Linked DNA regions of Homo sapiens. The protein of the gene in region 3 interacts with the protein of the main gene of each other region in a biochemical or structural test. Each region holds a gene or a part of one and is shown on either strand. Other genes may lie near its edges.

What was found.
Region 1: the proteins of KAT2B (region 3) and HMGA2 form a complex in vitro, tested with the Homo sapiens proteins (one study listed by BioGRID).
Region 2: of the proteins of KAT2B (region 3) and SATB1, one has a biochemical effect on the other in vitro, tested with the Homo sapiens proteins (2 studies listed by BioGRID, with this or other methods).

Annotation. Positions count from the first base shown.
Region 1 is NC_000012.12:65,822,953-65,826,704, reverse strand, and holds the start of HMGA2 (high mobility group protein HMGI-C), read right to left. Parts: upstream 2,223-3,752; 5' UTR 1,435-2,222; coding exon 1,324-1,434; intron 1-1,323.
Region 2 is NC_000003.12:18,415,246-18,418,897, forward strand, and holds part of SATB1 (DNA-binding protein SATB1), read right to left. Parts: intron 1,834-3,652; coding exon 1,657-1,833; intron 889-1,656; coding exon 762-888; intron 1-761. UniProt on the Homo sapiens protein: Crucial silencing factor contributing to the initiation of X inactivation mediated by Xist RNA that occurs during embryogenesis and in lymphoma.
Region 3 is NC_000003.12:20,099,387-20,103,038, reverse strand, and holds part of KAT2B (histone acetyltransferase KAT2B), read right to left. Parts: intron 3,178-3,652; coding exon 3,085-3,177; intron 1,753-3,084; coding exon 1,571-1,752; intron 1-1,570. UniProt on the Homo sapiens protein: Functions as a histone acetyltransferase (HAT) to promote transcriptional activation. Has significant histone acetyltransferase activity with core histones (H3 and H4), and also with nucleosome core particles.

The DNA.
Region 1 (3,752 bases), on a different chromosome or scaffold from region 3:
GGTGTAAAACAGGATTCAAATGCGGTGTAAAGTGTCGCTTGGGCAGAGCGGGAAAACTCAGGGGCCTCTAGATCGGCTTGTTTCCTTTGATGATTTCAAAAAGGTACAACTCTCAATTTTTCTAAAATGCACTGGCAAGCAAACATTGTTCAGTTTCCCCACCTTGCTCTCGGACAACTTTGGGACTCTAGGATTATTTTCTAATCGGCGTGTTTGCCATGAAGGAAGCGATTTAAGACTAAGCAGAGAGCAAGTTTTAAAGCCCGAGAAAGTGGAGTTTAAATGTTCTCAATAGACATATCCCGCTCCAACTCTGCCCGCCGCGGCTTGGAAATTACAGCGAACAAAACCCCCAGCCCTGCGCGCTGAGCGCAGCTCTGCAAGCGCCGGCTGCACGCTTAATTGGTTGCATCCGCAGACAAAACCCTCCACTCCGCAGGGTCCCGGGCGCCCCTCGATCGTCCCCTACTCAACCCCCGGCCACTGGCCTTGGAGAAGAGCATTTAATGGCTGCAGCTCTGAGGCGCGAGATCCAGGGGCAAAAGGGGGACCGGGCCCCTGACAAGGAAGCGACCCTGGCTACCCTGCACTCTCTTGGACACTCCTTTCAACGCGCCCTTAGCTGGGCGAGTTAACCCCGTCCTGCGGGGAACCAGGCTCCCCGTAGCCCCTGCCCCGGGCTCCCTCCGGCGGCCGCCGCATATTTAAAGAGCCCAAAAAGGACCAGGCAGCCGGGTCTCCATGCGTTCTTTGTCGGGAGGGCGCGAGTCTTGGGCCACCGAGAGCTTGGAGGAGGGCGCCAAGGGGGCGGCTGCGGCGCGCCAGCCCCCGACCCGCGAGCAGCCCCGGGAGGCGGGAGAAAGAGCCTCCGGCCCCCAAGACTCTAGCCCCTTCAGCCCAGATCGGCCGAAGCGCCCGGGTCCCCGGCACCTCCTTCCTCCCGGGCAGTTGCAAAAGCAACTCGGAAAGCGCCTGCGAGCCCGGGTTTGTCGGATCCCGGTCGCTTCCAGTCACTGGGCGACACCGCGCCACTCGGGGCCGTGCACAATAGCGAAAGTCCGAGGACGCGCTTCGCCCGACCCCACCTCCCGCCTTCCCCGGGCCGCCCGCCGCGGCTCCCCACCTCCCCGCCCGGAGGGTTGCTGGCGCCCCGGGGCCGCGCGGCGCACTCGTGGGGTCTGCGCCGCTCCCCCCGGCCGGCCGGCGGGCAGTGTGCGACGGCCGCGGCGACTGGGCTCCCGCACTCCGGCCGCCCCGCGCGTGTCTGGGCCCCGGCAGTGGGGACGGGGTGGGCTGGTGCCCCCACCGCGCCCTCGTACTGACTTGCTGCTGCTTCCTGGGGCGGCCGCGTCCTCTCTTCTGAGGCGCTGGGGCGGCAGGTTGTCCCTGGGCTGAAGTGGACGGCTGCCCCGCGCCCTCACCGCGTGCGCTCATCCTGCCTCCCGCCGCCGCTACCGCCGCTGCAGCCGCTTCGCCTCGACCGCCCCGGAGCTGCCCAGCACCTTTCGGGAGATGAGGTGATAGGGCTGGGGACGCCGGCGGGGCGAGCGCGAGCTGGCGGGCTGCGAGGGCTGCTGTTGCTTAGGCTGCCGCCGCTGCCACCATCAACACCGGACGTCCAGCGGCTGCCAAAAAGAGAAGAGGGGAGGAGGAGGAGGAGAGGAGGAGGCGCTGCCGGTGGCGGCGGCGGCGGTGGGTGGGTGCCGGAGGTGGAGGTGGCGGTGGAGGTGGAGGTAGCAAGAGGAGGAGGGAAGCGAGGGAGAAGGAAGAGAGGCTTTGAGGTCGCAGAGGCTCCTCTCGCGGGTTGGGATCAGGAGTTGCGGGCACCGGGAGCACTTCGGAAGCGGCTTGGAAAGGGAAGAGACTTGGAGTGAATTGTGTCCCTTGAAATGTTAGGCGGGGAAAGAATTCCTCCTCCTCTTCCCCCCACCCTGCGAGAGAGAGAGAGAGAGAGAGAGAGAGAGAGAGAGAGAGAGAGAGAGAGAGAGAGAAGAGATTGAGATTGAAAGTGCCTTGGGCAGTCGGAAAGCAAAGGAGGATGGGGAGACTCCGCCGGGATAGGGTCGGGCACGGAGCACAGGCAGAGGACAGAGTAGTGGGTGGCACCGCGCCTCCTAGGGTGGCGGGAGCAGGCAGCGGCGGCACCGGAGAGTCGGAGGGGGACGGGCTGCTAGCTCCTGAGTCTTGCACCAAGCGCGCGCTGCCCGGGCTGGAAGTTTTCTGAGTTCCTGCCCCAAGATTCAAGTGGGATGAGTGTGTGTGAGTGTGTGTGAGTGTGAGTGTGTGTGGTGTGTGTGCGTGCACGCGCTTGCGCTTGGGGAGGGGGTGGTGGTGGGGGGAGTGCCCACCTCTAATCGTGGGCGGATAAAGGGGAGGGGGTTGCGCAGGAAGAAAAGTATGAGGAGGAGGGAGGCCAGGCGGACCGCCGAGCCAAGGCGCCTGGCTGCTAGCCAGAGGCAGCGTTCGAAATACAACTGCCTCGGCGGCGGCGGCGCCCGGGTGCCACCCGGAGCCCCGCTCACGTGCTCCCGCCCGGCGGCGGGGTTAAAGGGACAGGCCGGGGATCCCGGGCTGGCTCGCCGTGGGCCTAGCTCCACCCGCCTCTCGAGGTCACCCCTGGGCAGTTGTCCTGGGAAGGCGCGGGAACGTGACTGTCCCGGAGCCACGTTTCGGGGCTTGGCCTTTACCTGCGCCTCTACCGTGCCGAGCCAACACTTTGCAGGAAGCGTCTAGGCTGCACCTCAGGCAGCGCACCGGTTCACTGTGAGTGGGAAGGGACTGCAGTGGAGTGGGAGAGGTCCCCTGACAGCCGTACTCCGCCTCGGAATGCCCTCACCACAGAGCCTGCGGGCGGGCGAGCGCGCACATACACGGAGACATGCATGCAGATACACACGAACACGCGTGTAAGCACATGCACGCAGATACACGTGGACACGGGGGCATTCATGCGCTGGTAAACACCCGCATTTACACACACACACATACACACAGGCACGCAGATAGACATGCACATTCGCAGACACATGCAAACAATGTGCACACACAGAGCGCCCCAGCTTCTTCATTGAACTTTTTTCTCCAGGAAAGACTAGAGGCAACCGAAGTTCCCTCCCCATCCCCCTCCCCGGGAATCCGATGTTCCCAGGGTAAAGGGCACCTTGTAGATTCCTAACACCACAATTGCACTCACTGCCCAACTCTCCCTTCAGTTTACCTCGATTTAACCTTCTGCCTGAGAACTCTCTTTCTGCCAAGTCCTAATTTTATGGCCTGGGCTGTTCTGAGTTATGTGAACACCATAATGGCCACAGTCCGTTTTTAAAAGGTGGAGTACATTTTTAAATGTACCTCTTTTCATCCTTGAATAACACAAAACTCTGAAAAAATTAGGTTCAGATTTTCACACATCACACCCAAAATTATTTTGGACTAATTCCAAAATAAAAACTTTCACCTGGGGAAGAATTTATTTTTTTCAAAGATACAGACCACCGTGGAATAAAAACGCCTACTTTGCAGCCCTAAGCAGGAGTTAGGCACCGCCAGGTTCCGCTGTGCATGTGGAGGAGGCGCGTGTAAATGTCTGCTTTGGCGCGGCAGCGCTGATTGGTCCGCGTTGCCATTTTAAATCCATTTCCAGCTGCCCTTTGCAGAGCTGGGACACTTTGCTGCACGTTGAGTGCTCTGCAGGAACCCAGGGTTTCTGCTGGGTCTGGGAACGCTTAGCTGTAATGGAGAGAGAGAGCCTC
Region 2 (3,652 bases), 1.7 Mb from region 3:
ATAGATTAGAAAGGGGATTATTACAAGATTGCATCCCGCTGCAGAACATTCCTTTAAGACAGACAGATTTCATTTTGCGCATCAAACAGATGCATCTGGAGATTGCTCTCGGTCTCCTGATTGTTCCGATTAGTTAATTACTTTATACAACACATCTGCTGTATCGATGCATGAATTATACATCAGCTGCCTGTGGTGGCTATTTTTTCATGTTACTTCTACCTTCCTGCTCTGATGCGCTTGGGAAGACAATTTAAGGTGTACTGCTTTCTCCTGAGCCATCATGAAAAGCTTTAATGTATTAACCGATTTCCTTTCATTACTCTGTTCATATGAATTAAAAATCATAAAAAAATAAATAAATAAATAAGACTGTGGTAATAGTGAATAAGACAGTCTTTCACAAAATGTACACAGATGGCACTGTTCATGATATGCAAAAATATTTTTTTCTTAAGTAAACTTTATGTAAAATGCCTTCTTGTGATGCATTATTTAATTGACTAAACGTAAAAAGTCTTGTCTTTTGATAACCTGCACAAACCTACACATTTTTTGTGTGTGTGGGGGGGGGGATTGCTTTTAAATTATACATTGAAGTTAGGAAAAAAGGCAGAAGGATAGGGTAACAAAATCGATCTGTATTAACCTTTCTGAAACACAGACTAAAAAAAAATTGAAGGTCGACCAGAGAGAAATGCTTCATTTCAAAAGACCAGGTAAGAAGAATGTTTCACCCTAGATTTGCTGTCTTGACTCACCTGTGTAACTGAATTTTCAATGTGACCACATGATACACATCTTGAAGCATATCTGCTACTGTAGCATCAGGGGCATCTGTCACGTAAGACAGTGGAACTGGATTCCACTTTCCAACCTGGATTAGCCCTATTTCAGATAAAGAGAATATGTCACTAAATATTTTACCCTCAGATAATATATCTACTAGAAGGGTGTTCTTTTCTTTTCTACTACCCCTACCACAAGCAGTACCGTTATTTCTGTTTGAATGATTCCCTTCCCTCTAAAAGGCAGGTCAATGAAAATATTCACAGCTTAGCTTTCCAAATTGTAAAATTATGTAAATGACTGTAGGGTTGTTTATTATTTTGGAAATAAAACCCCATCAATAAAACCTATGCATAAGGCCACATTTTCCTAACTTACAGGAAGTTCTAATAAGACATAGCCGAACCAGTTCTAAATGGCTTTATGATTTAGATAAGATTCTCTATTGCAGTGGGAATCAGCATTGAAAAATACTTTGCAGCCCATAAAACCATCAGAAACAGAATAAAAGAAACAGAACTAGATATTCAGTCATAAATGCAAATTGACTCTCAACAGTCCATCTGCTCAAATACGCTCCTCACTTCCTTGTGGGTCCTCAGTGGAGCAGATTATTAAGGTCAATAAGCATACTAATGATTCAGCTGAAGTAATTTAAAAAAAAAATCTACCTCGACATTCCACATGAGCAAAATGTGTGTTAACTAAACCAAACTGAATTAAGCCAATTTTTTAAAGCCACAGCCTATAAGGAACCAATGTAATACACAGGCTACAGTTCTTTGAATAAAAATATTCAGTGCTTTCTCTGCAAGGTAAACAAAGAATGCTAAGCAATTTTTCCAACCCCACGTACACATTATTTACCTTTGGCCTGGGCAGCAGAGCTATGTGAATAACCTAGAGACAGCAATGCCATTTCGATCAGCTGGTTGAAAAGCATATCCTTTCTCACCAGCACAAATTCTGCATGCTCCTCCTTGCAATCATATTCAATGGCGTTTTCATAATGTTCCACCACACAGAAAACTGGCAGCATGGTTCCTATCAAAAAGATGAAGAAGAAGAGATGGAAAACCAACAATCTTCAGAAATACAGCTTGGGGGTGGCGGGAGGAAATATTAGCCATGAAAATAAATAATCACAAGAGATTCACTGTGCTTCCAAGGCAGACTGGGTACAGTACAGGCAAATGCACACAAATATATACATTCTCATATTATTTAAAGTCGTAACAGAAATATTTAAGTAGAATATGAACTTGGTCCTAAGGTAAGCTGTGCTCTAAATTAACAGTGCATTTTCCAAAAGCAATGAATGCAGAATTACCTTTCTGATCAAATAATAATGGTGACGAAAGAGAAATAAATGTATCTTCTCTAATTTGCTATGAGTAGTATACAGTATGCAAACATAACTCACCATTTATCTTCAGAAGAACCCACCTTTCTACTGCTTACATGATTTTGTTAATAATAAACTTTTCCTGGGTTTGTGTCCAAACAAATTATCTTCGACCACGAAATTTTCATTTTCTTCCTTTTTTAGATATTAACTCTAACTGGTTCCACAAATCATTTTCTTCCTTTTTTAGATATTAGCTCTAACTGGTTCCACAAAAAGTACTTAACCAAACTGGTGCTCATAATACACAATTTCAATATCTGCATAATGTAGAAAAATAACATTTGCTTTTATGAATACTCATTTAACCTACCTAACTAAAAAGAGAGCACGGTACCCATAAGTCTTTAAAATCAACAATCTTTGTTACAGTAAATAAGGTAAAAATGAGAGATAGAAAAGGAAACTGACATACTAGGATAAAGGAATCTGCATAGATTTGGTGTGCTCTCTCTTTATATATTTTAATCCAATACAGTAACTCAGTAGCTAGATGATTAATAAGCACCGGCCACACTACTATTAGAAAGAGGCTTCTTCTAGAAATTGATATTACGGAATGCTGTGGTACTCAAGGTGTTTATGCAGCGCACTGTCAGACTTCCAATGATAACGGAAAAGGGTTAAAAGCAGATGCATCTGAATTGTACTGTGGCAAACTGCCAGAAGGGTATCATCTTTAGCATAAATGATGACAAGGGTTACTTTAACAGGGCACCCAGGATCCACAATTAGTCCTACAATACTAATGCCTCTATAAGCTCTGTCCTCTGGACTCACAGAATCCTACCAACTTCTGAAGATGACTTAGTGCACACCAACCGTAGCTAAAAATCAGGATTTCCTACTGACACCAGAGAGGCCCTTCAAAGATTCTCTATTTGCTTGTTTCTGCTGAACAAAAGCCGGCAATAAAACAGCTACATCTTTCTACATGTGAGTCTTCACCAAAGCTTTAGTGAACTGTTCACAAGAGATTCTAGGTCTGACAAAACCCTTTAGGTTTACTTAGAAAAACTCACAAACTCATTCGGAGGTACCAATAGGCTAGGCATGAAAAACAAGCCGCAGAGCTTGCCAATATTTTTGTCATTCATTCAGCTGTTTTATACCAGAGAAAGAACCCGTCGGGGATCAGAAGACAACTTGGGGAGACCACAGCAAAAATAGCAATATGCAAACTGGCGATTCCTTCCTTGGCTTGAAGGTATTCTGGCAAAATCGCCTAAACAAATAAAACCATTCAATCCCTTTTTCTTAGTAGTGTTTTCTCATCTCAGCCATAATTTTCATTTAGCACCTATCAGACAGAAACCATGCACATGAAAAATAAGATGAAAATGTTAATAAAAACCCACAAAAAGACTTTAGTAATTTTGTTATTTGGAGTATCTGAGACCCTCCTACAATTAAACTGCATTTTTAGAATACATCCAAAACAAAACAAAACAAAACCAA
Region 3 (3,652 bases):
TGAAATTGCATATATTTGCAAAAGTGAAGAGAAAGAGAGGAAAAGGGTGTGTTACACATGAAACTAGGTCAATGTCAGAGAGGAAAGCTTATTTTAAATTATACAATTCTTCCATGTTATCTGCTGTTACAGAAAATAACCTGGGCACAAGTGGTCTTGACAGGCTATCAAAAGATACTACTGCCCACTTTAAATCAGGAAAAAAGTAGGCACTAAAGCTCCCTAATGCAAGCTTGATGTGCCTCTGAAATATAAACAGAGAAAAGTTATAGAAAAGTTATAAAAAAGTTGAAAAGAATGGATGACCCAAGTCACAGTCCTTCAGATGAAAATAAATGTAGGTCCTTATATTTTGTATGGTACAAGTTTAAGATTTGTAAAACCAATTCTGTTATTCTGCAAGTAATAAGCAATAAAAATAAATTTCCACTTTAGAAGAAAATATATGTTCAATCCAAGACTATCTGCAGAGTTTGAATGTCCAGCAATAGAGAAATGGTTAGGTAAATTGTGGTAAATCAACTCAATGGACTATAATGTAACCTGTGAAATGTTTGATATGATATTAAGTGAAGAGACATAAAGGCTACAAAATTCTACATTTTCTTTCATTATAACTAATGTAAAATGTTATTTAAAAGGACAAAACCTGGAAGATAATATGTATAATGATGTCAGTTCCATCACAGTTCTGGAACTAAGCTAATCTTTCCTTTAAAAAAAATTTTTTTTTTGAGACAGAGTCTTGCTCTGTTGCCCAGAGTGCACGATCTCAGTTCACTGCAAACTCTGCCTCCAGGGTTCAAGTGATTCTCCTGCCTCAGCCTCCCAAGTAGCCAGGATTACAGTCACGTGACACCATGCCCAGTTAATTTTTGTATTTTTAGTAGAGATGGGGTTTCACCATATTGGCCAGGCTGGTCTTGAACTCCTGACCCAAGTGATCTACCCACTTTAGACTCCCAAAGTGCTAGGATTACAGGTGTGAGCCACCATGCCCAGCCTAAAAAAAATTCTTTAACTTCATTATATGGTCATTGCATTTTTTGAGTGAGGGCTCTAATTAATTTCAGAGTTATAGTGTAGCTATCTAGTCAACTATATTCAATAGATAAATAACACAAGCCACATATGGATTTTAAATTTTCTAGTAGCCACACTGGAATGGTAAAAACAGGTAAAATTAACTTCAATATATTTTATTTAATCCAATGTATCCAATGTACTATCATTTCTACATGTAATCAATATTTTAAAAGTATTAATGAGCAATTTTAAACTCCTTTTTGGTACAATCATAGAAATCTCAATTCAAACTAGCCACATTTTCAAGTGCTCATATAGCTAGTGGCTATCACACTGGGTATAGATGATTTACATCCCTCACACCTCAACATATTATGATAGCAATGAAAAGCAGGAGTTTGCAAGTTAAATTATAAAGACATTATCTCTGAATTGATGGAGTCATAATGATAACTAGGCAGCCCTATACTTATAGAGTCAAGTACAATTTTAGGTCTGTAACAGGCTTTATGGGGCCAAAGGAAAAGAACTTGCATCTGATTACCTTGTGTAGTTCTCTTTGTATCCAGAAATATCATCATTGGGAGATCGCAGTCTTCGTTGAGATGGTGCCTCCAGATGCCAATAGTTGATGCGGTTTAGGAACATTTTTGCCAACTCAACTATTGTTTGCCTTTCTTTTGCTGGCAGGTGACTAAATTTGTACTGCACAAAGTTATTCACACCCTTAAAAAGAGGGAAGGCAATTTCTTCATGCAGCTATGCAATCATACTAATTCTGAACACCCACACAGCCAGCATGATTGGTGGTTATTAGCAAAATAACAGACATTTCTCTATTCACAAAAATCTCTTCCTTTTCCCTAAAAGAAAATAGCAATCCCCAGAGGGAATCTTGCCTCAGATCACGGTGGATGAAAAGTGACAAGACAGAGAGGCTGTGAGTTGTGATTCTACGCCTGCTGAAATCCTGAAGCATTAAGGAGAAAATCAAAACCATGGACTGAAAAGGTCAAAACCCCTGAAACAAGAAAATATGACTGTTGTGCAGAATAATTATTGCTTTACTATCAGCAGAGTAGCCCACATATAATGCAGTTCTTAGATAAATATTGTTTTTACATTACAAAAATGCTAATCAAAAACCTGCTATCATGCCTACCACTGAACTAAACAACTAAAATTTAAACTCTTTACTATCATTTGTTTGAAGTCAATAAGCTTACCAAAATATATATATCATTCAAAATTATGGGCTTTTAAAAAAACTGTTAATTTAATCTTTCTACAGAATATTTCCATCTCATCTAATTTCAAATAAAAGAGCAATGAATTCTTATTTAATAGAGTTTGGAGGCAAAATAAAATTTACTGAAAACTGACTGATAAAAATGCATTTATTTTTAAGGATTCTGGTATCATGACTTCAGTAGTCATTCTCATCAAAAAATTCAGTCCAGAGTGTTTTTGTTTAGCCAAACAATCAAAGGCTAAAAAAGTGATGCTAATGAGAGATACTGACAACACCTAACAGAAAAACTCTTTACATTTTAACAGATTCCCTGAGTAAAACGGCTTCTTTCCAGGAATCATAATGTAGCAGGAAGTCCATTTCTGGGTACAAAATCTCATTTCTTTTTTGCTTTTTTTGCTTGACTTACAATGTTTTTCACATTGCTACTAAATCCCCTCACCTCAATAGGCTTTCTCAGACAGTGCCAAGCAAATGGACAAAGACTTCATTTTAAAGCACCAACAACAAGAAAAAGCACATTTCATGTGTTCTTCTTACAAACTACATGTTCTACTTAATGTTTTTCTTCCCCAAACACACAGTAAACTGTGAGTATGTAACAACCCTAAAAGGCAAAAGCTAGATCATGTATTAAATTAGGTATACACCTCTGATCCAAAGCCTCCAGGACAATTTCCACAGACTGGTAAACATCTCTAACCTGGGTATGGAGGAGGGAAGCCGTAGATAGAGATATAAAAGGAGGATTAAAAGATTTCTTCAGCCTTGAGCCAATAAAAAGAGGGCTTTTAAAATCTTTTTACCTGTTCAATGCTAGGTTTTTCAAATGGGGGTTTCTTTTCCAAAGAGCCTTCAACCACAGGTTTTCCTCTTTGTAAAATAGACTTTCTCAAGAGCTGCAAAGAAATCATTAAAAAAAAGAAAAAGAAAAACTTAATTGGTATGTCTATCTCTCTCTCCTCTCTCTTCTGTTTCTGTCTGTCTCTCTCTCTCTCTCTTACACACACACACACAGCCTTTAAAGGAAGTTACCATATTCTATTTATCTTAACTATATATAAACAAATCCTTAAGTCAATAAAATGGGCAACTATCAGGTAACCCAAATTGGCCTTCATGTCCACGGCCAGAGTTATGAAGAAATGGACACCTTTCATGTTCTGGGCAGCCTAGGCCACCCATGCTGGTCCAACAGACACCACCGTCCCATGCACTTCCCTCTTCTCCCCACTGTTTCTGGCTTTCCATTGACCCAGAGGCCTGGTATGCAACCCTACACACTTGGCACATGCCCATCCAGGCCACTATAGGTGTGCTGAAGCTCTAGAGGATCTTATTTAAAGACGTGAGAGACCAAGATCTATTCTGCAC